2 linked regions of the Homo sapiens genome follow. The protein of the gene in region 2 interacts with the protein of the main gene of each other region in a pairwise test. Each region holds a gene or a part of one and is shown on either strand. Other genes may lie near its edges.

Region 1 (3,500 bases), on a different chromosome or scaffold from region 2:
CTGCACTGCAACCTGGGTGACACAGTATTATTTATTTTGAGATCCTATCTCAAAATTAATAACCTAAATAAATAGGTGGGAGAGTGGACACTCTTACATCAGGTCAGAGGCTTAATATCCATAATACAGAAAGATTTTCAAAACTGACAAAGGACACCCCAACAAAAAAATGGGCAAAAGACAGGCAATTCTTAGAAAAACAAAATCAAATGGCAAACAAAGGCAAGTCTTAAAAGAACAAGTTCAAATGGCAAACAACATTAAAATTCACAACTGGGATCAAGTTCCAATGAGATATCCCTTTACATCCAACAGACTGGCAAAAATTAAAGATCATAAAGCCAACTTCTGGCCCAGATAAAAAGAAAAAGCTGCCATTTATTATTGATGGAGAACACAGGAAGCATCAGAAGCCTTTTTGGAAAGCAATCTTTCAACATTTATTACAGTTTTTTGTTTTTTTAAAGGTTCCCTTTCACCAAGCTATCCCATTCTTTGATATCTATCCAATGGAAATAGTTATGTGGAGCGACAAAAAACTGAAAACAAAGTGTATGTCTATTAACTGGGGAATGGCTGAATTTAATACATTGTTATGATTATATAACCTTAAAAAATAAATCATACTCCACATGAAAATAGTTAAGATGTGGATGATCCTATTTTTATACAGTAATACTGAAAAACCCTATACTTGTAACTGAATGCGTACCTATATACAATTCTACGAGCATAGTGAAATATATGGAACCACGTATATGTGCTACAAACAAAGGTTACCTAATATGGAGGCGGAGGTGAGAGACCCAGGTGGTGAAGAGCAACCAGGGGAAAAAAAAATACAACAGACTAAGTTTTTATATCATACTTACGTGTGTGTAAAATTATACACGTGTCTATGTAAACGTATACTTTTAAGAATTAGAATATATCTTATTGTCAGCCAACACGTTTTCCATACAGCACGTATGTGCATCACCACTCCCCACTTCTAATTTTTCCATCTCTAGGGATCTCAAATTTATAAGATATAAACTTATAAGATGCTTACCACAACTAAAAGATCTAAGTTGTAATTTGATTCCAACAAGTACCAAATAGTCAAGGCTGCTACTGCAATCAAAAAAATGTCTTAACTTCAAACAATATACTTTTTAAAAAGATCTACGCAACTAAATCTACAAAGTAAAATTATTCCAAATCACTAGATACTTGTTCCACAAATTCAAAAAGTCTGCAAATTTACCAATTACATTATACATTACAATAATTATTACAAGTTTTTTTTTTTTTTTTTAGATGGAGTTTCTGTTGCCCAGGCTGGAGTGCAGTGGCGTGATCTTGGCTCACTGCAACCTCCACACACACCCCCACCCTGGGTTCAAGGGATTCTCCTGCCTCAGCCTCCAGAATAGCTGGGATTACAGGCACCAGCCACCATGCCCTGCTAATTTTTGTGTTTTTAGTGGAGATGGTTTCACCATGTTGGCCGGGCTGGTCTCGAACTCCTGCCCTCAAGTGATCCACCCGCCTCAGCCTCCCAAAGTGCTGGGATTACAGTCAAGAGCCAGCACGCCCAGCCAATTATGGAGTAAGCTCTAATAAGAAAAAAAAATTATTCAAGGCAAGCATTCAGCATTCATTAGTATTGAGCATGTAACTGTTCTGAGTTTGAAAAAAGAAAAAGGACAATGAGGATGTGAAGATTTCTTTAAGAATACACAAGTGTCTACTACTACTGTTTACATACCAGTAATGTTCTTGGCTTGTTAGGTTCACCCATTTGTATGTATTATCTAACAGTTCTCTTTGAAATGGAATAAGTTAACAGTTCCAAATGGCCACCCAAAACTATTCTGGGCCGGGCATGGTGGCTCACACCTGTAATCCTAGCACTTTGGGAGGCTGAGGCAGGCAGATCACCTGAGATCAGGAGCTCAAGGTCAGCCTAGTCAACACGGCAAATCGCCATCTCTACTAAAAATACAAAATTAGCCGGGCGTGGTGGTGCATGGCTGTAATCTCAGCTACAATAATTACTGAGGCACAAGAATCGCCTGAACCTAAGAGGCAGAGGTTGCAGTGAGCCAAGATTGTGCCACTGCACTCCAACCTGGGCAACAGAGCTAGACTCAAAAAAAAAAAAAAAAAAGAACAAAACTATTCTGACTTTCTCGTTGCAGAGTTTAAGTTCTATACAGTTCCCTCTATGCATGCATAAAGTTTTGTGACAATATCTGAACTTGACCAAGATCAAAACATAACTTCTTTAAAAAAATCATTTAAATTCAGTTTGAACCAAAATCAGAAATGATGAAGTTAGCAGTTACTAAGATTACACATCATTCAACAAATATACACTGAGGGCTTACTATGAACTAAGTACATATATCAACAAAATTTAAGACTTGAAAATAACCTGAAAAACTGTAAAAACAAAAAGGTTACATGAAAAGGGAACCAAAAACAGCTACCTATGATTAATTATGTAGATTAAGAAAGGAATTCAGGAGCCTCTGAGGCTCCTGATCTGAAGAAATCTCAACACGGGAGCGCATCCCTTTGCCAACAATAATAAACTTCATCAGCTATTTTACTAATGGAGACCTCTGTTCATCTTCCCAAAATAGACAGCAAAAAACGCTGAAGATAGAGAATGGCAGGCAAGTTAAATACACTGATAGCATAAATTATCTTGATTAAAAGAAGGAGGTAGTGGCTCATGCCTGTAATCCCAGCACTTTGGGAGGCTGAGGCAGGAAGATCATAAGGTCAGCAGTTTGGGACCAGCCTGGCCAATATGGTGAAACCCCATCTCTAATACAAAAATCAGCCGGGCGTGGTGGCTGGCACCTTTAGTCCCAGCTATTCAGGAGGCTGAGACGGGAGAATTGCTTGAACCCGGGAGGCAGAGGTTGCAGTGAGCTGAGATTGCGCCACTGCACTCCAGTCTGGGCAACAGAGCAAGACTCCATCTCAAAATAAAACAAAATGCATGAAAAGAAATAGATAATATTAATTTCAATATTATTTAACCTAATATACCTAAAATATTATCCAACATGTAATCAATGTAAAAAATTATTGGCCCGGCGCAGTGGCTCACGCCTGTAATCCCAGCACTTTGGGAGGCTGAGCCAGGTGGAACATTTGAGGTTAGGAGTTCGAAACCAGCCGGCCAACATGGTGAAACCCTGTCTCTACTAAAAATACAAAAATTGCCTGGGCGTGGAGGCACACAGCTATAATCCCAGCTACTCGGGTGGCTCAGGCATGAGAATCACGTGAACCCAGGAGGCGGAAGTTGCAATGACCCGAGATAGTGCCACTGCACTCCAGCCTGGGCAACAGAGCAAGACTCTGGCTCAAAAAAAAAAAAAACAAAAATAAAAAAAAAATAAAATTTAGGTGTTTCACATTTTTTTTTAATTCTAAGGCTTTGAAACCCAATTTGTATTTTACATTTAAAGCATGTCTCAATTCAGACTAGTACATTTCAG
Region 2 (3,500 bases):
CTATCTAAGCTTTTGGGCAACTGAGATTTAATTTGAAATCTCAGGTCTTCTGTCTCTGAAGAGGTTGTTCTTTCTTATTTTGGCTTCCTAAAATGTTGGAATGAAATACTTCTCACTTGCTAACTTCAGACCCTGCAGAAATCAATATAATTAGTATGATTGTTTCCAACTGACTTAAATGTGTAGGAAATAGTATATATCCTTTAGGAAGTTTATCCTGATTTTTACAGAAAGTTTCTGTCTGCACTTGCCTTCTTTGAAGAAGCAAACATTCACGGTAGATTTATCTTCCAGGATTTTGATGCTGAGGCCAAGAGGCAGTTTTGAATTAAAGCCCTCCTGTGACTAGTGTATTAGTTTAATAATCAATGCATTATGATAATGAAGCAGTTTATAGATGAGGTGTAGTCGTTCTTTAAAAATTCAGTGTTCGTAAAGATTGATCAACTTCCTAACTGAATTACTCTTTTTCTTTCTTGAGCTAGGATGACAATAAGAGATATACTCCTGTCTGGTATACATTGGCTTTTATATTTTTCCAGACTTGTGTTTCATCGTGGGCACTGATTGCTGATTTTATTTTCATTTTACCAGAATAACTGGTTCTCCTCCTCCACCTCCTAAATGAATTTGTTTCCCGAATATTTATTTATTTATTTTTTTGAGACGAAGTTGCCCAGGCTCTGTTGCCCAGGCTAGAGTGCAGTGACACAATCTAGGCTCACCGTAACCTCTGCCTTCTGGGTTTGCGCGATTCTCCCGCCTCAGCCTCCCGAGTAGCTGGGACTGCAGGTGTGCGCCACCATGCCTGGTTAATTTTTGTATTTTTAGTAGAGACGGGGTTTCACTGTGTTGGCCAGGCTGGTCTCGAACTCCTGACCTCGTGATCTGCCTGCCTCAGCCTCCCAAAGTGCTGGGATTACAGGTGTGAGCCACCGTGCCTGGCCTCTGAATTTGTTTCTCTAACAAAATTAGTGGTTAATGTTTATTTGATGTTAAAAGTCAGTCAAAGAAAATAGGCTTTGGGATCCCACTCCGGACCCCGCCTTGGTGCCTGTAGGGTGAATTGACATTGCAATTCTTGCCAAGGAGAGGTTAATTGCAGATGAAAGTGGTGTTGCATGTTTTATATTTGCTAGTAGGGGATGTGCTGACTCTTACTAAAAAACATCTTTAGAAATGTCTTATGCATTATAATTTAATCCAAGTCTCTGATATTGGTTTGGATGGTTTTCAATACAAGCCAAGTAACCATTAAATAAGATTACATAACACTGTATTTTTAATTATCTGATATAATGTATGGATTGGTGGCTGGCTCACTGCCAAGTTACATTTAGTTGTCGTTGATTACAAGAGAAAGTGGAGCTGAGGATTCAAGATTAAGGTGGTCCAGATTTGTGTCTAGGTTGATAAAAGTTTTTTGTTTGTATATCAAAATGGTTTTTATATCAGTTTCTCAAATATTACAATTCTTAGCATTACTTAGAATAAATATGGAGGATAAAAATATATTAAGGAAGGATTATTATTTTATGTACATCTCTTTGTAATCCACAAAACCCAGGGGCTTAAAACTTGATTTTTGGGGACCCCTTTTGGAAAACATTTCGGATTTGCTTGAATGTCACAGACTTGTAAAGTAGAGAGTAAGAATGAGAACTGCAGAACTGTATTTAGGTATGGTGCCTTCATGCTATAGTTTGTGATTTTCTGTTTCATCCAAAGGAGGATGTGATTATTTAGTTTTTAGTTTTTTATTGTTTTTCTTTGTGTTATCAGTTTTTTTTTTTTTTTAAGAAAATGCGATCACTCACAGTGTTAGATATGCCATTTCTGAGTTTTATACAGTGTATTATGATTAAAAGTGACCCAGTGATTGTGAGTTACAGGGTTTTGGTATTGGACATTAGTAACAGGCTTATAGAGAACCTGCCATGCTGGTTCTCTGTGTTGGGTCCCAGGGGTAGGGAGGAAAAACAGTCTGCACTGGTGAGAAGCTCCTGCTCTCCTCTGTGTGCGTTTGAGAATGAATTTTCGGTTTGTAGATGCCCTCTTTCCTAAGGAACATCTTAGTCCTTCAACTATGCTGAAATATTTAATGATTGGATGGCTTAGATTTACTGTTAATAAATCAGCTTGTGGACATTTTTGAGGCACTTGTTGGTACTGGGTCATGTTTGTAATCTCGATACTGGTAACAGCTCAGAGATGGAGAGGTTATTAGCCTAGTTTTTCAGTTGTAGAAACCAAGATTCTGACAGCTAAAGTGACTTGCCCATGGTGACATGCTTATAATAAAATGTCAGAGTGAAGGGTCAAGCTTTGTTCTTTTACAGGTCCATTGTTCTTTTTACCATGTCCTACTGACTCTCAGTAACACTGAGAGTCTAAAGGGCTAAGTTACTGGCCAACCTGTGATGGTATAATTAGTGAATGATAGAAGGAGAATCAAAACCCTGGCTTTTTTATGTGCAGTTTGTTTTTCCTCTAGCCTGTGCTGAATTGAAAGATAAATTATATAGCATCCATTTTCATACTTCATTCTTCACATTTCTGCCCTAAGATAAGTCCTCTGACCTTTTTCAAAATGGGTTGGATTGCCTGTTTTCTGGTGTCACATAACACCTGGTGCTCTTACGGTGTGATCCTCATCACACTGCTTTGTTTGGATCTTTGTCTTTCTTGGTAAAGAGTGAGTTCCTCGGAAGACAGGGCCTGGTCTTTCCTCTGTATCTTCAGCACCTAGCATACGTCTGAGCACAGGGCCCTTGGGAACTCCTGTCTTCATTTCAGTGTTACGTGTTAATTATCATTAAGGGTAGCAGAATCAGAAAGTATATTTGGAATTTAGCAGTCAGTAAAGAGCTTTGCTTCTTACAGCTTTAGAGGACCTGAATTGGAGGTGGGGATGAAGTCAACAGTTCTGCCCATATCAATGAAAGAAGGTTCTGAGTGAAATGCAGGGTTGAACAAGCAGAAAAGCATCCCAGTGCTCTTTAAATGTGGTTGCACAGTAGGGATCCTTCTCTAGGAGATAATGAGAAGATGTTGTCAGATCTGCTTTGAATCAGATGTTTATTTACTTTTATTCTTTCTTAAGGAATTTATGAAATCACTGCACTCTCATCAATTTGCTCTCCTTCTCTAAACTCCTAATGATATTTCTCATGACAGATTAAAAACAGAATTTTGGAAGCCCTAGTCACATGCCAAATAAGGTTTCTTACCTGAGAGAGTTATCCGCAGTTTCAGATGCCAAAGGGAAACTCCGAAAGCCAGAGGAGCGATTGAAACCGCAAATTGAGTGCCAACAGCAACTTTGATATCAAAAGCCCCATTTGCCTGTTGTCACCAGTCCCGCTGAGTGAAGATAGAATGACTTATATCTTCTACCAAAACAATAGAAGGAGAGTGTTCCTTGGCGTTGGGGATGATGATTATAAAAGCCACCAATTTGAGGCTCTTCCGTGCCAGCTGCTTTCTGTGCATTCTCTCCC

The links.
Region 1: the proteins of KHDRBS3 (region 2) and FXR1 interact in a two-hybrid assay, tested with the Homo sapiens proteins (one large-scale study listed by BioGRID and IntAct).

The regions. Positions count from the first base shown.
Region 1 is NC_000003.12:180,919,170-180,922,669, reverse strand, and holds part of FXR1 (RNA-binding protein FXR1), read right to left. Parts: intron 1-3,500. UniProt on the Homo sapiens protein: mRNA-binding protein that acts as a regulator of mRNAs translation and/or stability, and which is required for various processes, such as neurogenesis, muscle development and spermatogenesis.
Region 2 is NC_000008.11:135,460,456-135,463,955, forward strand, and holds part of KHDRBS3 (KH domain-containing, RNA-binding, signal transduction-associated protein 3), read left to right. Parts: intron 1-3,177; exon of another isoform or gene 3,178-3,433; coding exon of another isoform or gene 3,434-3,500. UniProt on the Homo sapiens protein: RNA-binding protein that plays a role in the regulation of alternative splicing and influences mRNA splice site selection and exon inclusion. Binds preferentially to the 5'-[AU]UAAA-3' motif in vitro.